Linked DNA regions of Homo sapiens. The protein of the gene in region 1 interacts with the protein of each later gene in a biochemical or structural test. Each region holds a gene or a part of one and is shown in the gene's direction. Other genes may lie near its edges. The genes, in order: BIRC3, CASP3, PELI1 and IRF1.

Region 1 (5,452 bases):
CTTTATTTTCTGGTTGTTGTTTTTGATTTTTGCTGTTTTCTTTTTTCCATTTTTTATTCTTTCTTAAATGGTTCTTTTTATGAGTCCTATCACTTGACAAAGTCAGTGTATCTAAAATCTAACAATCCTCTCTCCCAAAACAATTCTTCAGATAGCTCAGCCTCTGTCATTAGTTATTTTTTAGAAACAGCTTTATGGATTATGGTAAGCTATATGAAAATTAATAAACTTAGATTCATAAGTTATATTCCAAAGAGATAATAAAACTGCAGTTTTAAAATATAAAATGTTTTACCAATGGATACAAAATCTAGGTCTTGAAGGAGAATTAGATGATATCTTGTAGGACGAGAAGGTAGTCGTTGACAAATAGGGTTTATTATTCAAAATGCTGTTACTGCCTTTCCCTGCTTACTATAAAATATTTAGGTAATGGCAATATGTCTAATTTCTGGAAATAATTAAAATTTCAACTTAAAATGGAATTTTAAAGAAATTTTATGGGCCGGACATAATGGCTCACACTTGTAATCCCAGCACTTTTGGAGGCCGGAGTGGGCGGATCACTCGAGGCCAGGAGTTCGAGACCAGGCTGGCCAACATGGTGAAACCTCATCTCTACTAAAACTACAAAAAATTAGCTGGATGTAGTGGCACATGCCTGTAATCCCAACTACTCAGGAGGCTCAGGCACAAAAATAGCTTTAACCTGGGAGGCAGAGGTTGCAGTGAGCTGAGATCGCACCACTGCACTCCAGCCTGGGCGACAGAGCAAGACTCTGTTTTAAAAATGAATAAATAAATAATAAAAGAAATTTTATGGAAGAATGACACTTTAAGAAAAAATTGTTTTAATTCTCTTGATTTTGTCTTTCCCCAATTTGACTAGATTGAATTGAAACGTCAATTTTAATGGGTTCTAAGTTCCATTTGGTTAAAGGCTTAGCAGTATTGCCAAATGATTGAAAGCACAGTACATGACACCAGACTACCTCAGTTTGATTTTTGCTAGTTGTGGTGTCCTTCGGCAACTTAATTGCCTCACTGCAGCTTCATTTTCTCATTTGTTAAATGAGGCTATTAGGACCTACCTCAAAGAGCTGTTGTGAAGATGAAATGAATCAATACATGTAAAGTTCTTAACACAGTGCTCACTAAATGTTAGTCCTTACTATAAGTAGCATTATTATTATTATTATTATATTTTTTTAAGACAGGGTATTGCTATGTTGCCCAGTCTGGTCTCTGACTCCAGGGCTCAAGTGATCCTCCTACCTCAGCCTCCCAAGTAGCTGGTGCTACAGGCATGTGCCACTGCACCCTGGATTATAATTATAATAACATTATTATTAAGCAAAGGAGATGAGACACCCCTAAACCTAGCAATCAACATCAATGCCTTACTGATTACGAATTAAAGATAGTTTTTATCCTGCTATATATATAGGACTGGAAGGAAGTTTGTGAGCAGAGTTTGAACATGTTTATGCTTGTTTTCTTTTTTATAAAGATGATTTATTATTAATCCGGAAGAATAGAATGGCACTTTTTCAACATTTGACTTGTGTAATTCCAATCCTGGATAGTCTACTAACTGCCGGAATTATTAATGAACAAGAACATGATGTTATTAAACAGAAGACACAGACGTCTTTACAAGCAAGAGAACTGATTGATACGATTTTAGTAAAAGGAAATATTGCAGCCACTGTATTCAGAAACTCTCTGCAAGAAGCTGAAGCTGTGTTATATGAGCATTTATTTGGTGAGTGATAGAAAATTATTTTTAAAAATTTTCTAAGTCAATTGAAAATACGCTCTTATTAATAATTTATGACTACTGAAAATAATTCAGGCTGAATGTGGTGACTCATGCCTGTAATCCTAACACCTTGGGAGGCTGAGGCAGGTGGATTGCTTGAGCCCAGGAGTTTGAGACCAGACTGGACAACGTGGCGAGACCCCATCACTACAAAAAATTTTTAAAACAAATTATTTGTGATGGTGTATGCCTGGTAATCCCAGCTACTCAAGAGGATGAGGTGGGAGGATGGCTTAAGCCTGAGAGATAGAGGCTCCCATGAGCTGTGATTGTGCCACTGCACTCCAGCTTGGGTGACAGACTCTGTCTCAAAAAAAAATCAATCTAATTTATAGATATTAGTTACATAAAAAGATTAAAGACTTCTGTTGCCTTGAAATGAGTATTTGGCTATAGTCTAAAGTGTTCATTTTTAAAATAGATTCCATAGCTAAATATTAACCTTATTTGTCATAGTAATGCTTTTTCTTTTTCTCCCTTAGTGCAACAGGACATAAAATATATTCCCACAGAAGATGTTTCAGGTAATAGTACTAATATTTTAAATCAATAGAGAACATTGTCTTTATTTTCTTAGTTTTTCACTGAAGAAGCAAACTGCCTTTTATTAAAAATTCTTTCCTCTTTCTAGATCTACCAGTGGAAGAACAATTGCGGAGACTACAAGAAGAAAGAACATGTAAAGTGTGTATGGACAAAGAAGTGTCCATAGTGTTTATTCCTTGTGGTCATCTAGTAGTATGCAAAGATTGTGCTCCTTCTTTAAGAAAGTGTCCTATTTGTAGGAGTACAATCAAGGGTACAGTTCGTACATTTCTTTCATGAAGAAGAACCAAAACATCGTCTAAACTTTAGAATTAATTTATTAAATGTATTATAACTTTAACTTTTATCCTAATTTGGTTTCCTTAAAATTTTTATTTATTTACAACTCAAAAAACATTGTTTTGTGTAACATATTTATATATGTATCTAAACCATATGAACATATATTTTTTAGAAACTAAGAGAATGATAGGCTTTTGTTCTTATGAACGAAAAAGAGGTAGCACTACAAACACAATATTCAATCAAAATTTCAGCATTATTGAAATTGTAAGTGAAGTAAAACTTAAGATATTTGAGTTAACCTTTAAGAATTTTAAATATTTTGGCATTGTACTAATACCGGGAACATGAAGCCAGGTGTGGTGGTATGTGCCTGTAGTCCCAGGCTGAGGCAAGAGAATTACTTGAGCCCAGGAGTTTGAATCCATCCTGGGCAGCATACTGAGACCCTGCCTTTAAAAACAAACAGAACAAAAACAAAACACCAGGGACACATTTCTCTGTCTTTTTTGATCAGTGTCCTATACATCGAAGGTGTGCATATATGTTGAATGACATTTTAGGGACATGGTGTTTTTATAAAGAATTCTGTGAGAAAAAATTTAATAAAGCAACAAAAATTACTCTTATTCTTCATTGCTTTATTTCAATGACATTGGATAGTTTAGTCACTCCCAGACTCTTTCCATACCTTCTTAAAGCCTCTCAAATATTGAACTACAGTTTATACTCCTTCCCATAAGATGCTTCTTCATTGACACTTGTAGAACACGGGGTCAACACATCATAAAATCTATTATGGAATGCCTGAGACAAGAATCAAACAGTCCCTTTAGTAAGTTTGTTTATTCACTTCTCTATTGATTCATTCAAGAAGTCTCATGCCAGCCCCACCTATTGGAAGAAGGTCTGAGTTTTATTCTTATCTCTTTGGTATTAATTCTGAAACTTAGAAAGTACACTGGTTAGCAATGCTTGGGACCAACAGGTTGTTCTGGTAAATAAATCTGTTTCATATTGTCAGTGCAACAAAATGTCCCCCTCTGCATTATGTTATTGGTACTCAACACGTCCGAGTCATAACTCTGTCCTTTGCTTCTTATAGAGGTATTAGGTCTTCAAGAGCAGAAGTAAGACTGTAATAGGGAATACTCAGGGGAAGGCAGGCAAAGGCTAGTCATCTAAACCAGTTCTAGATGTCTGTATAGGGGCAGATGGCTCTGTAAGGGCAGAAGGGAAAGACCCCTTCATAAGGGTCACAGCTGACAATCCTATAACAAAAGACAGGTTAACAAGAGAAAAACTTAACAAATTTATTTAATCACAGATTTACATCACCGGGGAGCCTTCGTAATGAAGATCCAAAATTACAGGGGAAACTGTGCATTTTTATGCTTAGGTTTGATAATGAATGGACAGCCCTGAAGAATAGTGATTGGAAAAAAAGGATATGATCTAATGGGAATAGACACAGGTTGGGGACCCAGCAAGGCCTGTCTGTTCAGATTATTCTTGGTCTCTGTGCAGCATTCCTTCCTCCTGGATATAGGGCAGGGCCTGTATGGGATGGGGATATTATAACCTGCTATCAAGCAAGGTAGGTCAGAGAATTTATTTATGGCCAGCTCTTACATAGTTAGGTGAGGAAAGATTAGAGTACTATCTTTAAGATGTAAGTCTGGCATTGTGGAAAGATGGTTCCAGTTTCTATGACCTACCTTGGGGAAGAGGAATTCAAGTTTCTGTGGCTTGCCTTCAGGGAGAATGAGGCTGAGACAGGAGGGCAGGATAACATCAGAGAAAAACTTTGCTTCTGAGGCCTTCACTTTGGGTTTTCTGAGCCCCAACATCTGCTAGTGTTGTAAAGAGAACAATTAGGGACCAAGTGAGGGGAGGAAAGAATCCATCTCTGCATTCTGATGCTGGGAGACTTATTTCCTTGAAATGCAATTGATTTTGCCTCTGCTAAGAGGCTCTGCTGGCTACCCATGTACTAGCCAGTGTCCTGCATGGGTGCTAGGCTGAATTATTTGTAATTGTGCTTAGGTGATTTGTAACTCAGGTATAGGGTATTTAAATAGTAGGCACCCTTTTTGCACCATGTGTTTTTTTTTTTATCTAGTTCTTGTATACTACAGATAATATTTGAACTTTGTCATCTCACTGTAAAACTTTTGTTCATTTCTCATTATGGTAATAAATAGCTATTATAACCAACCCATTTATTCAAATATGTTATTTCCCTAAGTGTTATTTTGACATTTTGTTTTGGAAAAAATAAATCACCATAGATAATAATGGTAGATCTATTTGCTGACCAAATGTCAGATGTTTTCAGGTGCTTGACATGCATTAATCCATTTGATTGCCTCCAACCCCACCTACCAGCCAACGTGGTCTTCAGTCATTGGGTTTAAACCTCAATATATTAAGTGTGATCATACAGGACTTTGCAGCAGGCTTAATTTCATACTTCAGCCATGCTCATTATAGCTTCCATTCCAACCTTTCTCTTAATTTCCTTATATCGCTTGATACCATTAGCCATTAAGTTCCTTTGTGGTCACAGGCAATGTGATTGAACCATATTCAGCTCCTATTGGAGAAGATGTCACCTCCTTTTGTTGTCTTGCACATCATAGTAGACACTATGTATGTTACTAAGAAAATTCAAGACCAGATGCAGTGGTTCACACCTGTAATCCCAGAACTTTAGGAGGCCAAGGCAGGTGGATCGTTTGAGTCTAGGAGCTCAAGACCAGTCTGGGCAACATAGTAAGACCATGTCTTAATAAATAATTA
Region 2 (7,032 bases), on another chromosome or scaffold:
TGAATAGTGGAGAGTGCTCTGTACTGTCTTCCTGGTCACGTGGCCCTTGCCAGAGGAAAGGAAAGGATGGTTTGTTTGTATAGTACAATGGAACTTATTTCAATGTATTCTGTATTTGATTTTACATTCCTGTTCTCATATTTTTACCTTAATTACATAACAAATATTAAAAGATTGACTTCACCAGGCCCAGTTACAATCGCCAGTTTGATAATTCTTATACGTACTCAAATGAATTCAGAGACCAGATGGGAAAAGATTTTGATAAAACCTCTGGTACATCACAACTGAAGTCTTTTCTTGTCCAAACTATTGTGAAACAGATGTTCTTTCTGTTTCATTTGCTAAATCTGGAAACGTGACTGCTTTTGAGACTTTGTCCTCTCTGACAGGTAATAAATATAATCCTGATATTTTTCAAGTTGTTTGACAGAAGTGTAATCTCCCCAGAAGTCCTGCTGGACAGGCTTCACTTTTCCTTTGGAGGAACACAGAGATACAGGGAATATGTTTTAATGACATATACCTAACGCTGAACATGAAACCAGTTATTTTACTTTTATTATTATTATTTTTAGAAACAGCCTTGCTGTGTCACCCAAGCTCAAGTGCAGTGGTGCGATCATAGCTCACTGCAGCCTCCAATTCCTATGCTCAAGTAATCCTCTTGCCTCAGCCTCCTGAGTAGCTGGGACTACAGGTGTGTGCCACCATGCCAGGCTACTTGTTTTTACTTTGTTATAGAGATGGGGTCTCTCTGTGTTGCCCAGACTGGTCTTGAACACATGATCTCAACCATTCCTCCCACCTTGGCCTCCCAAAGTGCTGGGATTACAGGCGCGAGCCACTGTGTCTGGCCTATTTCACTTTAGAAGTAAATTGAATGCCACATGCGAAGTTTGTTAAATTTTTTTAAAAAAGGAAAGAAAACACAAAAGTAAACTACCTAGTCGCATCAGAAATGCCATAGTCATTTTTGCCATTTTTTCATTCATTAGAATTCAGTGCATTATGTTATTTTGTTATCTCTGCAGTAACTTTCTATCATGTTATTTATTTTCTTTGTCTTATTTAAAGCTTCTGAGATTATGGATTTTTGTTTCCTTCCCTGAAGTTAAGTGTTATCATTCCTATATAGTACTAAGCTGTCTACAGAATAGTGGGAGTCTGCCCTCTTGAGTTGGGAAGATCCTAGTTTGAATCTTGGCTGTGCGACTTTAAAGTTCATTAACTTCTCTTAGCCTCAGTCACCTGAACTCTGCAGTGGGGATCCTTATGCCTCAGAGTGTCATTGGGAGGACTCACGAAAATACGCTTGTACTTTGAGTTCAGTACCTAGCCTGTATGAGCCAGCATTAAGAGGGACAGTCATCACGCAGCGCTTTGCACACAGCTCTCACGCCACATCCTTTGGCTACTGTTTTGGTAAATCTTTACTAGTAAATGTTTCTTAAAAGCATTTACATTCATGGACATGATTCAGAAACTAACAGTTGTTTTTTAGGTCTCACTTTGAGATTTAAAAACCCTTAGGGCAGAGACCAGATTTTATTTCTTACCTCAGAGTTTCCCTGTAGGACAGGAACCAGCAACAGCCTAATGAGCTGATTAAGAATTTTAGAGATTTAAAATTTAAATTAGGATTGCCAGTTTTAGAGACTGGCACATAAATGTTTTCATTTAAGGCAGTGACTGTTTCCTTTAGGATATGATTTTTTATCTTTCTAAGATGAGATCACCATCCTCAGAATAATTTGTACCCCGCTGGGCACTAGCTAATGGAGGTGATGTCATGCTAAGCAGCACTTCAGTGAGTTTTGCGGGAACCAAAGCTCTGCTCCCAGGAGTGTGGATTTGGTGCTTTCATGTGGAAAAAGCGGATGATGACAAGTAGAGAGCAAATGTGCGCATGTCTGATGCTGTAAGGATTTCCTTTACCATCATATAAATTTTTAAAGTATATCAAAATAAACTGATAACTGAGAAAATATATGTTGTTCAGATACTAATAATGAAGTTAATGAAGTCCACTATAGTATTTGTCCCTGAGAAATCTTTATCAAATATTTTAAATCCTATTGTAAAATAATGTATTTTTTCTTTCAGTTTTAGAGACTGGCAATCCTAATTTAACATCTCCTTTTGAATTCCCCACCACAGGCACACTTTCACACATTCACTCTTTAATAACAGGTTGTTTCAAATTGTTAATACTTTATAGCTTAATATAGAAATTTCACTTTAGAAATTAATTTTTATTTCTCTGCCTTAATGCTATAGATGTTGTAGTCTGCTTTACTTCAGTATTGTAATGAGTAGTTGGCTAACCACCATGTAAATAGGGAGAACATTCTAGTTTTTTACTTGTGTAGGAAAACACAGCTTGAAATGTCTAAGTATCTATTTTAGAGTGAAGTAAATTTATACTGACAATATTTTTTTGTGTTTGAAGACCTGACTGTTACAGCGTTGGTGGCAAGTGTTAAGGGATCCAGGAACTAGACAAGTGATTCTGAGACCTGAGTTCCAGGTTTCTAAGTAATATCAGTTGGTCTACTGAGAACTTTGCCATAAACATATGTGTTCAGAAATTTCCTTTCTTAGCAGCAGCATCCTGAATTGAACAGAATTACACACACATCAGCCCAGTAAGAAACAATTCATGTTAAGTCCATTGCTATGCCAGGATAAATCTTTTAAATCACAATTATTTTTCCTATTTATATTTTGTCAAATAAGAATGTTCTAAAAACCAAAATTTCTGTTTTCTTTTTTTTTTTTTTTTTTTTTTGAGACGGAGTCTCACTCTGTCGCCCAGGCTGGAGTGCAGTGGCGCGATCTCGGCTCACGGCAAGCTCCACCTCCCGGGTTCACGCCATTCTCCTGCCTCAGCCTCCTGAGTAGCTGGGACTACAGGCACCCACCACCACGCCTGGCTAATTTTTTATATTTTTAGTAGAGACGGGGTTTCACCGTGTTAGCCAGGATGGTCTTGATCTCCCGAACTTGTGATCCGCCCGCCTCGGCCTCCCAAAGTGCTGGGATTACAGGCAAAATTTCTGTTTTCATTTAAGGCAGTGACTATTTCCCTTAGGATGTGATTTTTTTATCCTTCTAAGATGAGATCACCATCCTCAGAATAATTTGTACCCTGCTGGGCACTAGCTAATGGAGGTGATGTCATGCTAAGCAGCACTTCAGTGAGTTTTGCGGGAACCAAAGCTCTGCTCCCAGGAGTGTGGATTTGGTGCTTTCATGTGGAAAAAGCGGATGATGACAAGTAGAGAGCAAATGTGCGCATGTCTGATGCTGTAAGGATTTCATCTACCATCATATAAATTTTTAGAAGTATATCAAAATAAACTGATAACTGAGGCAATGTATGTTGTTCAGATACTAATAATGAAGTTAATGAAGTCCACTATAGTATTTGTATAGTATTTGTATATTACAGTACTCTGAAAAGCTGGTCACTATTTAAAGTTTCCATTACCAGTCACAAGGAGAGAATAATTTTATCCCACAATTTTATTGCTGGCAAAAGACACAAGTTTATTAAAAGTCAGTATTTCAGTGTAAGAGTTACTAGACTGTTTGCAGAAGTGTTCAAAAGAGATCTTTAGGTCCTTGGTTGTCTGTGGAAGCTGATCAGCATTTAGGGGTTCCTGAGCACAGACTGTGAACCCTGCATTTGGCACATGCATTCAGAGAGCCAATTTGAGGCAGACTGGGGGCTAGAAAGGATACTGCCAGGAGCTCCAGGTTCAGCTTCCGAAGTTATTAAGTCTTATTTCCCAGTTTTTAAATTAGACTTCATTTTTTAGAGCAGTTTTAGGTTCAAACCAAAATTGAGAAGAACGTACAGAGACATCCTGTATCCCACCTGCCCCCCAACACGTGCGTAGTCTCCCCCATTATCAACATCCTGCACCAGAGTAGTACATTCTTACAAAGGAACCTACACTGACACGTCATCATCACCCAAACGCCATCGTTCACAATCAAGTTCACTCTTGGTGCTGTTTATCCTATGGTTTTGGACAAATTTACAAGGACTTGTATCCACCATTATATTGTCACACTGAGTAGTTTCACTGCCTTAAAAAGTCTCCGTGCGGGCCGGGCACGGTGGCTCACGCCTGTAATCCCAGCACTTTGGGAGGCCAAGGCGGGCAGATCACGAGGTTAGGAGTTCGAGACCAGCCTGGCCAACATGGTGAAACCCCGTCTCTACTAAAAATACAAAAATTAGCCTGGCATGGTGGCATGCGCCTGTAATCCCAGCTACTCAGGAGGCTGAGGCAGGAGAATCGCTTGAAACCTAAAGGCGGAGGTTGCAGTGAGCCGAGACCACGCCACTGCACTCCAGCCTGAGCAAGGAGCGAAATTCCATCTCAAAACAAAAAAAAAAAAAAAAAAAAATTCTCTGTGCTGTCTCCCTCCCTCCTAGCCACTGGCAACCACTGATCTTTTTACTGTCTCCATAGTTTTGCCTTTTCCAGATTGTCAGATAGTTGGAATCATGCGGTATATATGGCCTTTTCAAACTGGCTTCTTTCACTTAGTAATAATGCATTTAAAGTGTTCATGGCTTGCTAGCTCATTTCTTTTTAGTGCTCAGTAATATTCTGTTCTCTGGATATACCACGGTTTATTTATTCATTCACCGACTGAAGGACATCTTAGTTGCTTCTAGTTTTGACAGTTATGAATAAAACTGCTATAAACATCTGTGTGCAGGCTTTTGTGTGAACATAAGTTTTCAACTCCTTTGGGTAAATACCAAAGAGTGCGTATTTACCATATGGCTGGATCATATGGTAAGAGTATGTTTAGTTTTGTAGGAAACTGCCAAACTGTCTTTCGAGTTGGCTGTACCATTTTGCATTTCCACGAGCAGTGATTGAGAATCCCTGTTGCTCCACATCCTCACCAGCATTTGGTGTTGATGGTGTTCTGGTTTTGGCCATTCTGCTAGGTATGTAATGATACCTCATTGTTGCTTTAATTAGCATTTCCCATTATTTGCAGTCTGTGTATCTTTGATGAGGCCCACTGGATTTTCACTTTAGATTTTCTATAGATTGGCCATAAAGTCTTGAAACAAAGATATTTTCTCATGGATTATAATGCAATATCAGTAAACTATTATGTGTTCACCTACGTTTCCAGACTTGTTAGCTACCCTGTACTGTTCTCTCAGTTAATCAAGTTAACCACAATTTGTTTCTCAACCACAGGTGGCTAATGATTTTGTATGTGGTCTGTCCGCTTTGAATTGATGTGCATGGGGCAAGTTGGTCTCTATGATATTCATGGTTCAAGGAAGTTCGAGATTTCCTGGTACCTAATACATGTTTATTGTACATATGAAAGAAAAAAGGGCAGATAGAGGGGAACATGGTACTGAGCATGATAGAGGCAAGGAAGGGTGGCTACTTTGATAGGAGAATACCCCTATTTTTGTCACTCTTGAAACAGGGCCAAGAGTTGAAATTGGCTAGAACAATCCTGACCTTTGTTGATATTATTTTATAGAATAATATTTGTTACTGTTTTCTCACTTTTAAAAAATGCAGATGTTATAGAAAAATTAGAAGATATAGAGGAATGTTAAGGAGTAAATAAGGTGTCAGTAATGCCATCACCCAGACAGCCACTGTTAATAAATATGTTAATATGTGAAGACATACTAATATGTAATATGTACTGAGTGACTAATGGCAGGTCACTTAGTAGCTGTCTCGATTATCAGATCAACTGTCATGGTATGGCAGTGTTTATGTTCAGGTACCCGTATTAGTTATTGTTGTTAATCCCTTTCTGCGCCCAAGTTATAAACTAAACTTTTTCATAGGTATGTACGTATAGGAAAAAATATGCTGCATATAGGCTCAGTACTGTATTTGGTTTCAAGCATCTACTGGGGGACTTGGGAGGTACCCCCTGCCCCTGCCCCACAGGTATACTACTGTATAATTATTCTTCTATCTAAAGTAAGATCTAATGGAAGATAGGAACTTTGTCTTGTCTTCCACTCTGTCCTATTTCCCAGGATGATACCTGGCACAAAGTATTTGTTTACTGACAAACTAAAAGATGATTTATCCCAATTATACTCACATCTTCCCTTGATTTTCCAGAAAGCCTACAGGAAGTAAGATGGTAGAAAAGCAAAGTCTTCGTAGAAATGCAGAGCATAGACTGGCTCTTGGAGAAGGTCAAACATCACCCTCTCCTGTGGTTAAATTGAGATGGTGGCACTGGCTGTCTTCTATATTATTGCTGCACCTTTCCTCACCAGGGGTGCACACAAAACTGGGAGAGAGGGGAGGAAGGAGCTTAGCTTTGTCTTAATAGAAGGGAAGAAATGATGTTTTCCAAGAGACCTTGAAATTGGGGACCTTGGTAAAGGTTTCAGTTTGGGAAGATAAAAAAGTCCTGGGATGGATTCCAACAGTGTAACTGTACTCAATGCCACTGAGCTGTACGCTTAAGAGTGGTAAATTTTATGTCTATTTCACCACAGTTTTAAAGATTAAAATTTTTAAAAGTGGGGGAAGTTACCTAGGACTTTCTAGAAGGACTTTTGAGGGTGAGCAAGTTCTGTTATAGGCTTGTGTATTATTTTGGTATTTCTGATTTTATCATAGGAGTGAGGTTAAAGTTGTATTTTGACTGGAATTTTTGACATTGTCAGGGTTTCTAGAGTGTGGAGAAGGTCACTCAGTATTTTTTGTTTTTGTTTTTTGTTTTGCCTTTGTTCTTGTTTTCCTCTATTTAGGGAGGTGGATTGCCATGGGAAGTACCTTTGCTTCGAAAAGCCAGAAAATGCCTGGTAGAACTCCAGAAAAGTAGTAAGGAGCTGGCTTCTTCAGAGGCAGCATAGCAGAGTGGGAAGAGGGCCCTGTCACTTAGATTGTGACTGTCGACAAAGTCACTTAACCACCAGAAGTTGGGTTTTCTGACGTTTAGAATTTTGAAAAGATTAAAACTGAGTGCCTTGCAAAGTACCTGGTATATATTAAGTGC
Region 3 (7,032 bases), on another chromosome or scaffold:
TACATGAGGTCAAACTAACTTAATTGAAGACCAACAAATGAAGCCAGTAATCGAGACATTCGGATGTTTTTTATGTACATACTCATTTAAAGTTCTCAAGTACATGACTTCAGGAATTTTTTTTTTTTTTTCTTTTTTTTTGAGACAGAGTTTCTCTCCGTCACCCAGGCTGGAGGATCACAGCTCACTGTAGCCTCAAACTCCTGGGCACAAGTGATCCTCCCACCTCAGCTTTCTGAGTAGCTGGGGCTATAGGTGCATGCCATGACATTTGGCTAATGTTTTCTGTTTTTACTTTTTTTTTTTTAAATCTTTTGTAGAGACGGGAGTCTTACTATGTTGCGCAGGCTGGTCTCAAACTCCTGGCCTCAAGTGATCCTCTCACCTTGGCCTCCCAAAGTGCTGGGATTACGGGCATGAGCCACCATGCCCAGCCTAGGAATTCATTTTGAAGAATTCTTTTACTCAGATTTTAAAATATAGAGAGAATATATAAAGACAGTGAGTAGGAAAGCATTGTCTAGGTACTGGTCTTTGTTAAAGAGTATAAACCTTTGGGAAGATCATGAATCTTTCTTCAGAGAACACATAAAAAAAAAAGTTCCAGGAAGAATAGCTGTCACAGCATTTTATTTGCAGTTTAATAAGGCCAGTTGTATATTGATTGATTATATGCCATTTTTAAATTTTGAAAACTATCTTGGGTCATTTATGTATATAAATAACTGGTACTACAAAAGTGTTTTATTTTGGGTTTAGATTATCAAATACAGAAGTAGAAGCCAAGATTGAATGTGTTCCTGTGATTGAAACTTTGATGTCACTGATAAAATATCCCCAGATAAGGCCTTCTAAGAGATCTAAGCAGAGTAAGAATATGTCTGATTGGAAATATATTGTTTTTCTTGGCTAATTTGACCAAGGGCTCTAGAAATTATATGGAGGGTATATGCCAGCCGTACTCTTGTTTTTTAGTTTCTTGTCTAAGCAAAAAAATTGTTCTTTTGCTATAGACGCAATAGAACTAAATCTATAGTGTTATGCACGTTACTTGTAAATTCTTATGTCAGGACCAAATGGTCGCTTATATTTTTTCCAGCTCCCAAATTCCCTTTATTCCACTTTAGTCCCTTCATTTTCAGAGATGAGGAAACAGATTGCTTTGTTCAAAGACAGCTAGAACTAGAACACAGGCTAATACTTGCTAGCCATGTGATATACTAATGTCAGCCAAATACGGGCATTTACACTTTCAGATGTTTGCCATATCTGTGCACTTACTAATTCTATTTAATACAATTTAAATTGACTCCTTTAAATAAGCTTATTTTAAAGGAAATTTTTTGCTACTATAAATAGAAAACCATTATATCCTTTAAATAGTAACTCTAAATAGGAATTCAAAACAAAGCAACGTTATTAAAATTTAATTTAAAATTAATTTAAATTTAATTGTTATTAAATTTTTAATTATTGCTGTTCTTCGTCAGAAATGTGTCAAAGCATTGTTTTCATGTTTGATGTCAGTTCCTTAATTGTCTAAACAGAAAAAGCACAGCTAATGCCTCTAGTTAAGCTTCTGTATAACTTTTTTAAATGAAATGCTTCTTAGAGGGGAAATGAGAGGGCATGAATACATGTTTATATACTAAAGTATGATTTCATGTATATCAGAAGATCTTATTATATGGAACCAAAATTATTCTTTGGTTGATTTAATTGTTCTTGAAACTTCAGTTTTTACCTTGAAGGTTTTAGTTAGCTTAGCATAAGTTTATTTTTCTAAATAAGGAATCTGATTGCCTCACAACTCAGATGTATCACAGTTATGGTGAAATAGCAATATATTGGTTTCTGTAACCTTTTAAATACCGTAATGAATTAAAATCTCTTCAGCAAAAGCAAATATATCTAGGGTGACGAGAGGTGTTTTTAGTGTATTTGAATGATGGAAATGTTTTTCTTAAAATATTTCTGAAGCATTTTTTAAAATAATTTTTTGAATTTATTGATGATAGTAGTTGTGTGTTAGTGTGAATGACTGGTCTAAATGTGTATGTCACTTCCAAGGGATTAGTAGGGGTCAGAATGATTTGTTTTATTCATTGACTTTTCCTTTGACGTGTTCTTATTCATTGGGCTACATACATTCCCTGTTGCCTTCTCACCAAAAGTGCCACTACACAGGCTGTATTTCATTGTACTGTAGAAAAAGACAAGTAGACCTTTTTCATTCATGAGATTCCTATGAAATCTGTTGGTGGAGGTATAAAATGAGGAGACTTTTATGGGCTAGCTAGTAGGAGTTTTGCTGTGAAACCTTTGTAACAGGTCTATCAGGAACTAGGGAGAGAAATAAATGCAGGAAATACTTGATCCCATTAAACTGAGGATGAAAAAGACATGATAATATTTTGGGGATTATTTATTGTGTGATTTTCCGGCTGATCAGAAGTGTTAATTTTTTGTTATACTTGTGTCAAATACATATATATATATATATTTTGAAATGGAGTCTTGCTCTGTCACCCAGGCTGGAGTGCAGTGGTGCGATCTGGGTTCACTGCAACCTCTGCCTCCAGGTTCAAGTGATCCTCCTGCCTCAGCCTCCCGAGTAGCTAGGACTACAGGCACGTGCCACCACGCCCTGCTAATTTTTGTATTCTTAGTGGAGATGGGGTTTCACCATGTTGGCCAGGCTGGTCTTGAACTCCTGACCTCAAGTGATCTTCCCACCTTGGCCTTTCTGAACTATTTCCTTTACACACATTTAGAACTACATCTAACTGTATTATAGTTTTCACTTTCACCATCAGACAAAATTCAGAAGATTCAAGAGAAGGAAAGTCGATTGTATTTACTCATATTTTTGCTACCGTGTTTTTACATCTCATATTTTAAGGTTCTTTTATTTATTTATTTTCTGTTTAGTTAATTTCCTCTAGCCATTCTTTATTTATAGTGGGTCTGCTGGTAACAAATTCTCTCAATTTTTCCTCGTCTGAGAATGTCTTGACTTCCCTTCCATTTTTGTCAGCACCTGAAAAATACTATGCCACTATCTTCTGGGTTCTGTGGTTTCTGATGAGAACTCCACTGTCAGTCTAATTGTCGTTATAAATGCAGTGTTCTCTCTCTCTCTCTGCTTCCAGGATATTTTTTCTTTTTTTTTTTTTTTTTTTTTCTTGAGACGGAGTCTCACTCTGTCGCCCAGGCTGGAGTGCAGTGGCGCAATTTTGGCTCACTGCAAGCTCTGCCTCCCGGGTTCAAGCGATTACTCCCACTTTAGCCTCCCAAGTAGCTAGGACTACAAGGCACACCACCATGCCTGGCTAATTTTTGTATTTTTAGTAGAGACGGGGTTTCACCATGTTGCCCAGGCTGGTCTCGAACTCCTGACATCAAGTGATCTTCCCGCCTCCGCTTCCCAAAGTGCTGGAATTACAGGCGTGAGCCACTGCTCCCAGCCTCTTTATTTTTTCAGCTTTACTCTTTCTTCTGTCTTTTTGACATGTGTGTCCAGTGACACACGTGTTAGATTTTGCTATAGTCTCACGCACGGGTCTATAAGGCTCTGTTTTTTGTTTCATTTTGTTTTTCCTATTTTCTCTCTATTCAGATCGAGTAATTTCCACTGTTCAGTTTTATCATAGCTGCTTTTAAATCTTTGTCAGGTAATTCTGTCATCTAAGTTTTGGCACCTATTGATTATCTTTTGCATTGTTTTTGTTTTTGTTTCTGTTTTTGTTTTGAGATGGAGTCTTGCTCTGTTGCCCAGGTTGGAGTGCAGTGGCACTGATCTCGGCTCACTGCAACCTCCTCCTCCCGGGTTCAAGTGGTTCTCCTGCCTCAACCTCCTTAGTAGCTGGGATTACAGGCATGTGCCACCACGCCCGGCTAATTTTGTATTTTTAGTAGAGACCAGGTTTATCCATGTTGGTCAGGCTGGTCTCAAACTCCCAACCTCAAGTGATCCGCCTGCCTCGACCTCCCAAAGTGCTGGGATTACAGGCGTGAACCACTGCACCCAGCCTATCTTTTGCATTGTTTTAAATCTTGTTCTTGCTAGGATGAATGATTTTCTGTTAAAACTAGATATTTTCATATTATGTTCCTAGGCTCTGGATATTATCTAAACCTTCTGTTTCCACTGGCTTTTATTGACACTGCTTTGGCAAGGTCATAGGGGGTGCCTCATTACTGCCAGGTGGACATAGAAGTCAAGGGTCCCTACTCAGCCTCTACTGATGCCTCAGGAAGAGGATCCTTCTTGTTATTGCTGGGTGGGGGTGGAAGTCTAGCTGACACCTACTGAGGTAGGTGCTGGGGCATGCCCGGCCATCAGGGTGAAAGTCCTGGCTCCCTAGTTGGCCTACTTTTACATTGCCCTAATAGGGCATTGGAGCTCCTCACTATGGTTTATGAGCTGGAAGTCAAGGCTCCTCACTTAGCTTTCGTTGGTGTGGGTGGTGGTGGGGCAAAACTGTTTTCTGGGTTTGGCTGGAGTGGAGCAGTTACTGTCAAAAGTTTTCTGTCTTGCCAGGCTGTCCCTTTCTTGTTTCTTTGGCTAGAGAGAGCAAGCTTTTGTTGTGGCTCTTTTTGTCTGTGCCAGTTGGCATTTCCAGGTTGCTGCCTTCTTTAGCTCCAAGTCTGGGATATATTAGGCAAAAAGAAAACCCAGAGAATTTACACCACCGTGTCATTCCATGGGTCCTGAGGTCCCTTACTTAGTCTGCCTTCTCTCCACTTTTCACAGTCTTCTCATGTTTTGTATATAATGTCCAGGGTCTTTAGTTATACTTAGCAGAAATAAAAGGGAAAAGTATGTCTGCTCTATGCTTCTGTAAGTGGAAGTCTTCAAATTTGCATTTTTGATTCCTTTAAACAGTTTTGTAAAATATATAATCATTATTGGGCAAAATGTCCCATAAAATGTATATACCTTGTGATGGTTTGCATAATATTGTGTTCAAGAGGACTGCTGAAAAATAACATCTTTATTTAAACTGAAACGAATTGTTCACATTATTAATGAAAACTTTTCCCCTCTAGGAAATAATGCAAAAGGTGTCCCAAGGCTCCTGACCAGTGAACAAAGATTTGAGAAAGACAGCCAAGCTCATGTTTTCTCCTGATCAAGAAAATCATCCATCTAAAGCACCAGTAAAATATGGTGAACTCATTGTCTTAGGGTAAGGTTTCTCCATTTGATGACACACACAGTTTAATAATATATGCTAACTTTGGCATCTAGGCTAAAAGTACTTTTTTTTTTGGAATTTATATCTTACCTGCTTCCAAAAAGAATTTAAAGCTACAGGTAATGTTACCAAATCAAGAAACTCTTTTACTTCTCATATTCATGCCATCTTTTAAAAGCACTCAAATATGACATAAGCTTTGTCTCACCCTTACCCACAGAAAGGGCAGAGTTTCTCAAAGATGAAATGGAAAGTCCGGGCATGGTGGCTCACGCCTGTAATCCCAGCACTTTGGGAGGCCAAGACAGGCAGATTACCTGAGGCCAGGAATTCGAGACCAGCCTGGCCAACATGGTGAAACCCCATCTCTACTAAAAACACAAAAATTAGCCGGGCGTGATGAGGCATGCCTGTAATCCCAGTTACTTGGGAGATTGAGGCAGGAAAATTGCTTGAACCCTGGAGGCAGAGGTTGCAGTGAGCTGAGATCGCGCCACTGCACTCCAGCCTGGGCAACAGAGTAAGACTCTGTCTCAAAAAAAAAAAAATGAAATGAAATGAAAAATGTTATTTATCCACTGTCACAGTCATTCCATTTGTCTTCCCTATCCCATGTTTTGCCTCAGCTGACTTTACCAAAAATTCCCTTTCCCTTCCCTGCTTTAAGTCATTTCATGTAGGTTAGTCTTCATTTATTCTTTTGCCTCTCTACAGTAGTTATTGCTTTGTGCTGTACATTTGGGTTAAAGGAGTTGTATATGTGTATGGTGACAGCATAATGCCTCTGAAGCCCAGGACCTAGCTACTTCTTAGCTCCTAACGTAATTTCATCCATGTAACTCACAGAAATAGAATCTGAAGATTGAGGAATAGATGATTCTGTTATTCCAAATTATTTCAATTTATTCCACTTAAACTTGCCATTAACTATCAAAATGGAGACACAGTATTAGCCTTTCCTAACTAGAGATCTCAGAAACTAGAAAATTGCTCATTTTAGGCCAGGTGCAGTAGCTTATACCTGTAATCCCAGCTTACAGGTGGGAGGCCTAGGTGGGCAGATCACCTGAGCTCAGGAGTTCGAGACCAGCCTGGCCAACATGGTGAAACCCCATCTTCACTAAAAATACAAAAATTAGCTGGGCATGATAGTGCATGTCTGTAATCCCAGCTACTTGGGAGGCTGGGGCAGGAGAATCACTTGAACCCAGGAGGAGGAGGTTGCAGTGAGCTGAGATCAGCGCCACTGCACTCCAACCTGGGCAACAGAGCAAGACTCCGTCTCGAAAAAAATGAGAAAAAAGAAAATTGCTAATTTTATTTTCCCCCTACTGTTTCCCTCCTTTTGCCTAAAAAGCAACTCTAGATATTGCGGTATGTTTGAGAGTCAGGTTGTTAAAGTGAGAATGCGTTGTTTCAGTTGAGATAGTAAGAGAAACTGGGGAAATCATATGGAGTTACTGAGCTTGACTGGATGTTAGGAATCCTAGAATCCGGTGCTTGTTCAGCACTGCTAGCTGTGTGACCTTGGGCAAGTCACTGAACCATCCTGGGCCTTAGTTTCCTTGTCTGTAAAAATGACAGATAAGATCATCTAAGGCCCTTTGAGACTTAAAATTCTTTTCTCAGAAACAAAGCTTTAAAAGATCATAAATTTAGCATAGTAACTACAGTATTAGAACTTCAAATCACATAGATTTTAATGGTATCAATGACAAACAGCTCTTAACTACCAAAAACTTTTCCAGATTAAATTCTTCTAGCAGGAAATTTGAGAGTCATTTGAAGAATAGTTTAATATTTAGCTTAGGGTTTTAAACCGCCAGTCTTA
Region 4 (6,697 bases), on another chromosome or scaffold:
TTGTGTTTCTGGAGAAGAGAGTCGATCATCTCAGCAAATTCTCAAAGGGAAAAGCCAAGATCTTAGAAAGTGTGTGGCTTCAGGGGGTTTGTGGCTAGATGAAAGTTCTCCCTGGCAAAAGCATCTGTGAAAAGCAGCTGTAAGCCAGGGCACTGAAAGAGACCCAGGTCTGCCTTTTTCTTCGTGTTGACCAAGGCCCTTGGTCCAAGCCTCATGTGGTTGGTGGCCTCCTTTATCCTTGAGAGATGGAGCTCTAGGCCCATCTCAGAACAGTCAGCCCACCCATTTAGTAACTGTTCTCTGCTGCCCAGTCTGTGCCCACTCTACCCTCTGGCTGCTGATAGCCCAAGGAGGAAGACTGGGCATAGTCTGAGACACAGATAGTACACTTTGGGGATATGGGGACTCTAGTGCTTCTGGCTGGGCCCTTCACTGAGGCCCGCTAGATGTGTTTAAGCCAAGCCTGGGCATTTGAGAAGGCCCAGGGCCTAGGACCTGCAGAGTGTCACCGGGAGTACCTGCTGGTTTGACCACTGTGGCTCTCTGGTAGCATAAGAGGTCAGGGGTACCTTGCCTTCCTCCTTCAGGCCAGGGGCAGCTGAGGATCCCTACCCATGGCCCTGACGATCCTCTTTTTTCTCCTGCCCTCTAGGCCGATACAAAGCAGGGGAAAAGGAGCCAGATCCCAAGACGTGGAAGGCCAACTTTCGCTGTGCCATGAACTCCCTGCCAGATATCGAGGAGGTGAAAGACCAGAGCAGGAACAAGGGCAGCTCAGCTGTGCGAGTGTACCGGATGCTTCCACCTCTCACCAAGAACCAGAGAAAAGGTATCCAAGGACTCTGGGTCCTTGGGAAGCCCTCAGGGAGGGAGGGTAGAAGGAGGTCAGCTGGGGCTGGAGAGCCTGCACCAAGGCTGACAGCCCGTCTGCCCCACAGAAAGAAAGTCGAAGTCCAGCCGAGATGCTAAGAGCAAGGCCAAGAGGAAGGTGAGTGTGGTCCTAAGCAGCCAGGCCTTTGGTCACCTGTGGGCCAGGGTGAGCAGTGGAAGAAATGCTAAGGTGGGCCTGGGCCTAAGCTGCTTTCTCCCTCGACAGTCATGTGGGGATTCCAGCCCTGATACCTTCTCTGATGGACTCAGCAGCTCCACTCTGCCTGATGACCACAGCAGCTACACAGTTCCAGGCTACATGCAGGACTTGGAGGTGGAGCAGGCCCTGACTCCAGGTGAGCTGGTCCAGGTCTGGCAGGAGACCCCACAGGTCAGTGGGATGACTCTTTCTCTTGGAGGCATGGTGCTGGCACATGGTGGCCCATTAGTGCAGGCTGCAGGGTTGGTCGGAGGGCGCTCGATGTCTTGCAAACTAAGAAAGCACACAACCTTGACCTGTGGCTTCTGCTGTTCCCCAGCACTGTCGCCATGTGCTGTCAGCAGCACTCTCCCCGACTGGCACATCCCAGTGGAAGTTGTGCCGGACAGCACCAGTGATCTGTACAACTTCCAGGTGTCACCCATGCCCTCCACCTCTGAAGGTTGGTGCTCCTGGGGCCTGGCCTGCCTGCTTGACTGTCTGGGTCCTGTGAAGGGCTTCCTGAGAGAGAAAAGATGATCAGAACTCCACCTGGCACTGAATTGATTGAGTTGGGCATTGCCCAGTCTTAGCCACCATAGGGGGAGGCAAGCGACGGGGACACTAGGAAGGCAGTTCAGAGTGGGCTGCAGTACAGTGGGGGCTGGTGAGAGGAGGGAAGGGGGCCAGGGGCTGCATTTTGGGGTGCTGGTTCTCCTTCCTCCTCTGTAGCCCAGCATCTGAGGGTGAGGAAGGAAGTAGGGTAGGGGTGGGAAGCGGCGTGGCTTCAGGGTTTGAGAGGCTGAGTCACCAGGCCAGGGTCCTGTTCTGGAATCTCTATGGCAGATAGGTCCACCGGGAGGGTGTGTGTGTGTGTGTGTGTGTCAGAGAGACAGAGAGACAGAGAAAGGGCAGGGGGATCTGGTGGGCTGGAACTGGAACTGCAGGGTGAGTGTGGCTGACTGCCAGCCAACCTCTCTGCTTTCCCCATCCACAGCTACAACAGATGAGGATGAGGAAGGGAAATTACCTGAGGACATCATGAAGGTAAAGCCCCTTCCTACCTGGGCACTCTTGAAGTGACCGTTTCTCAGTGAGGAGAGAGAACCAGTGAAGCTTCCAAATCAGAGGATGGGTAGCTGCTGTTGTCACCTGGCTGCTTGCATTGTCCCACAAGTGCCACATTCACGTGGCTTGACTGGTGGGAAAGCCACCATGGGAAGGGAAGGCAGGTGGGAGGCCTGGCCTCTGACAGGCCGTCCTGAAGCAAGCCTTGGGGCATCAGACAGCTCTGTGAGTCAGGCACTATCAGCGATGGGTCCCTGGCCTGCATCCTCTGCCCCAACATGCCCCAGCCCTGCTAGTTCGGGAAATGCACATCAGGCTTCAATAATCAGCCTTTAGGATCCGTTAATATGATGATGGCTTTATAGAAAAAGTTAGCAAATTATCCTCCAGGTTTTTTTTTCTGCTTCAGTTTTGAAAGTGAATATAGTTTTTGCAGCCGGGGGCAGTGGCTCATGCCTGTAATCCCAGCACTTTGGAAGGCGAAGGTGGGTGGATCACCTGAGGTCAGGAGTTTGAGACCAGCCTGACTAACATGGTGAAACCCATCTCTACCAAAAATATAAAAATTAGCTGGGCCTGGTGGCGCATGCCTGTAATCCCAGCTACTCTGAAGGCTGAGGCAGGAGAATCGCTTGAACCTGAGAGGCGGAGGTTGCAGTGAGCTGAGATTGTGTCATTGCACTCCAGCCTGGGCAACAAGAGCAAAACTCCATTTCAAAAAAAAGTTTTTGCAGTAGTTGTACGCCAGCTGTTCCATTAGCCCAAAAAATTGAGACATGGATGTCGTTCCTTATCTCTAGCTTTTCTAGTCATCTTTTCTTGATTTATTATGCTAACCTTTGTTTTAAGCCACATTCCCTCTTACTATGTCCTTACACAGTTGAGAGGGAAGTCGTGGAGATGCTATACCAGAGAGTGGGTGTGAGAGGGGTGGGAAAATGAATTGAGGACCAGTGCCAACATGCATTTCTGCCTCCTCCCTCCCGGGCCCTTGTCCTGACTGCAGTGCACTTCTGCATCCTATCTGAGATTGTGAAAATGGCCAAGGGTGTGATACTGGCTGAGAGGAGCTGGCTCATTGAGGGCAGGGCCACAGGGTGAGTCTGCACTGGAAGGGAGTTGATAGCCTCTTGCTCTTCTGTCCCCAGCTCTTGGAGCAGTCGGAGTGGCAGCCAACAAACGTGGATGGGAAGGGGTACCTACTCAATGAACCTGGAGTCCAGCCCACCTCTGTCTATGGAGACTTTAGCTGTAAGGAGGAGCCAGAAATTGACAGCCCAGGGGGTAAGAAGGCCCTGGATCCTTATGGCTTCTTAGATGAGGGAGAACCACGTAGGGATGGAGAAAGCTTGGGGGCAGGGCCAGGGAGCAGGGCGGTAAAGCATCTGGGGTACTGACACATTGTGAATTAGCTACGGCTGCCATGCCTTAAGGTTTGCCTGAAGCTGAGTGGATGTTTACTGCTGTGCTGGGAAGAGCAGAGGCCATGTCTATGGCCTTCAGGGGTAGGGGGAAGCACACCTGATGCCACCGTCCCCTACCCTCATACAACCTTCTTCACATCTTCTAGGGGATATTGGGCTGAGTCTACAGCGTGTCTTCACAGATCTGAAGAACATGGATGCCACCTGGCTGGACAGCCTGCTGACCCCAGTCCGGTTGCCCTCCATCCAGGCCATTCCCTGTGCACCGTAGCAGGGCCCCTGGGCCCCTCTTATTCCTCTAGGCAAGCAGGACCTGGCATCATGGTGGATATGGTGCAGAGAAGCTGGACTTCTGTGGGCCCCTCAACAGCCAAGTGTGACCCCACTGCCAAGTGGGGATGGGGCCTCCCTCCTTGGGTCATTGACCTCTCAGGGCCTGGCAGGCCAGTGTCTGGGTTTTTCTTGTGGTGTAAAGCTGGCCCTGCCTCCTGGGAAGATGAGGTTCTGAGACCAGTGTATCAGGTCAGGGACTTGGACAGGAGTCAGTGTCTGGCTTTTTCCTCTGAGCCCAGCTGCCTGGAGAGGGTCTCGCTGTCACTGGCTGGCTCCTAGGGGAACAGACCAGTGACCCCAGAAAAGCATAACACCAATCCCAGGGCTGGCTCTGCACTAAGAGAAAATTGCACTAAATGAATCTCGTTCCCAAAGAACTACCCCCTTTTCAGCTGAGCCCTGGGGACTGTTCCAAAGCCAGTGAAATGTGAAGGAAAGTGGGGTCCTTCGGGGCGATGCTCCCTCAGCCTCAGAGGAGCTCTACCCTGCTCCCTGCTTTGGCTGAGGGGCTTGGGAAAAAAACTTGGCACTTTTTCGTGTGGATCTTGCCACATTTCTGATCAGAGGTGTACACTAACATTTCCCCCGAGCTCTTGGCCTTTGCATTTATTTATACAGTGCCTTGCTCGGCGCCCACCACCCCCTCAAGCCCCAGCAGCCCTCAACAGGCCCAGGGAGGGAAGTGTGAGCGCCTTGGTATGACTTAAAATTGGAAATGTCATCTAACCATTAAGTCATGTGTGAACACATAAGGACGTGTGTAAATATGTACATTTGTCTTTTTATAAAAAGTAAATTGTTTATAAGGGGTGTGGCCTTTTTAGAGAGAAATTTAACTTGTAGATGATTTTACTTTTTATGGAAACACTGATGGACTTATTATTGGCATCCCGCCTGAACTTGACTTTGGGGTGAACAGGGACATGCATCTATTATAAAATCCTTTCGGCCAGGCGCGGTGGCTCACACCTGTAATCCCAGCACTTTGGGAGGCCGAGATGGGTGGATCACCTGAGGTCAGGAGTTCGAGACCAGCCTGGTGAAACTCCATTTCTACTAAAAATGCAAAAATTAGCTGGGCGTGGTTGCGGGTGCTTGTAATCCCAGCTACTCAGGAGGCTGAGGCAAGAGAATCGCTTGAACCTGGGAGGTGGAGGTTGCAGTGAGCCGAGAACATGCCATTGCACTCCAGCCCGGGCACCAAAAAAAAAAAAAAAAAAAAAAACCTTTCATTTGGCCGGGCATGGTGGCTTATGCCTGTAATCCTGGCACTTTGGGAGGCCAAGGTGGGCAGATCACCTGAGGTCAGGAGTTTGAGACCAGCCTGGCCAACATGGTGAAACCTCATCTCTACTAAAAATACAAAAATTAGGCCGGGCACGGTGGCTCACGCCTGTAATCCCAGCACTTTGGGAGGCAGAGGCGGGCGGATCACGAGGTCAGGAGATCAAGACCATCCTGGCTAACACGGTGAAACCCCGTCTCTACTAAAAATATAAAAAATTAGCCGGGCCTAGTGGCGGGTGCCTGTAGTCCCAGCTACTCGGGAGGCTGAGGCAGGAGAATGGCATGAACCCCGGAGGCAGAGCTTGCAGTGAGCCGAGATTGCACCACTGCACTACAGCCTGGGCGACAGAGCGAGACTCCGTCTCAAAAAAAAAAAAAAAAATTAGCCGGGCCTGGTGGCGGGCGCCTGTAATCCCAGCTACTGTGGAGGCTGAAGCACAAGAATCACTTGAACCCGGGAGATGGAGGTTGCAGTGAGCTGAGACTGTGCCACTGCACTCCAGCCTGGGTGACAAGAGTGAGACTTTGTCTCAAAAAAAAAAAAATCCTTTTGTTTATGTTCACATAGACAATGGCAGAAGGAGGGGACATTCCTGTCATAGGAACATGCTTATATAAACATAGTCACCTGTCCTTGACTATCACCAGGGCTGTCAGTTGATTCTGGGCTCCTGGGGCCCAAGGAGTGTTAAGTTTTGAGGCATGTGCCATAGGTGATGTGTCCTGCTAACACACAGATGCTGCTCCAAAAAGTCAGTTGATATGACACAGTCACAGACAGAACAGTCAGCAGCCCAAGAAAGGTCCTCACGGCTGCTGTGCTGGGTAGCACTTGCCATCCAGTTTCTAGAGTGATGAAATGCTCTGTCTGTACCGTTCAATACAGTAGGCACTGGCACTAGCCACATGTGCCAGCTAAGCACTTGAAATGTGGCCAGTGCAATAAGGAATTGAACTTTTAATTGCATTTAATAAACTGTATGTAAATAGTCACATGTGGTCAGTGGTTACCATATTGAACAGTGCAGGTAGATACTGGACTGGGGGCAGATCTGAGGGAGAGGGGTTTGAGTAGTGGGAGGACACTGGGGATAGGGGCTTGGGGCTATTTACCTGCCATTTTGAGTAGTTTGCTATTTTAGCAGCCAACAATAACTATTGGTGCTGAATACCAGCCCTGCAGTGTAGCATGAGACAGGTCCATGCACACATGCATTAGGAAAACACCTTCATGAAGCAGGATTCTGCCTGGGCTGATGCACACAACCTCTATGGAGGGTAAACAGTGTTTCTGAAGACCGTAGTTTGGGAACCCCTGACATATGACAATGCCCCCTTAGATAAGCTCAAGTTACAGGAATGTCTGAGGGTGGAAGGTGTGGATATGTGCTTTTCCTGTCTCCCTCTTCAGTGTCTGGCCATGGGGCATAAACACTACCCAGCAGTAGGTAGGCTGGCCAAGAGAAGCCAGCTTGCATCACCAGCATCATCTAGGGAATGGAATCATGGCAGTAAT

What was found.
Region 2: the proteins of BIRC3 (region 1) and CASP3 form a complex in vitro, tested with the Homo sapiens proteins (one study listed by BioGRID).
Region 3: the proteins of BIRC3 (region 1) and PELI1 form a complex in vitro, tested with the Homo sapiens proteins (one study listed by BioGRID).
Region 4: of the proteins of BIRC3 (region 1) and IRF1, one has a biochemical effect on the other in vitro, tested with the Homo sapiens proteins (one study listed by BioGRID).

The regions. Positions count from the first base shown.
Region 1 is NC_000011.10:102,334,456-102,339,907, forward strand, and holds the end of BIRC3 (baculoviral IAP repeat-containing protein 3), read left to right. Parts: intron 1-1,510; coding exon 1,511-1,765; intron 1,766-2,304; coding exon 2,305-2,346; intron 2,347-2,453; coding exon 2,454-2,647; 3' UTR 2,648-4,948; downstream 4,949-5,452. UniProt on the Homo sapiens protein: Multi-functional protein which regulates not only caspases and apoptosis, but also modulates inflammatory signaling and immunity, mitogenic kinase signaling and cell proliferation, as well as cell invasion and metastasis.
Region 2 is NC_000004.12:184,639,420-184,646,451, reverse strand, and holds part of CASP3 (caspase-3 isoform a preproprotein), read left to right. Parts: intron 1-1,729; exon of another isoform or gene 1,730-1,909; coding exon of another isoform or gene 1,910-1,921; intron 1,922-7,032. UniProt on the Homo sapiens protein: Thiol protease that acts as a major effector caspase involved in the execution phase of apoptosis. Following cleavage and activation by initiator caspases (CASP8, CASP9 and/or CASP10), mediates execution of apoptosis by catalyzing cleavage of many proteins.
Region 3 is NC_000002.12:64,106,400-64,113,431, reverse strand, and holds part of PELI1 (E3 ubiquitin-protein ligase pellino homolog 1), read left to right. Parts: intron 1-759; exon of another isoform or gene 760-869; intron 870-5,052; 5' UTR 5,053-5,121; coding exon 5,122-5,192; intron 5,193-7,032. UniProt on the Homo sapiens protein: E3 ubiquitin ligase catalyzing the covalent attachment of ubiquitin moieties onto substrate proteins. Involved in the TLR and IL-1 signaling pathways via interaction with the complex containing IRAK kinases and TRAF6.
Region 4 is NC_000005.10:132,481,086-132,487,782, reverse strand, and holds the end of IRF1 (interferon regulatory factor 1), read left to right. Parts: intron 1-652; coding exon 653-829; intron 830-938; coding exon 939-988; intron 989-1,096; coding exon 1,097-1,226; intron 1,227-1,409; coding exon 1,410-1,532; intron 1,533-2,066; coding exon 2,067-2,116; intron 2,117-3,285; coding exon 3,286-3,421; intron 3,422-3,707; coding exon 3,708-3,832; 3' UTR 3,833-6,174; downstream 6,175-6,697. UniProt on the Homo sapiens protein: Transcriptional regulator which displays a remarkable functional diversity in the regulation of cellular responses.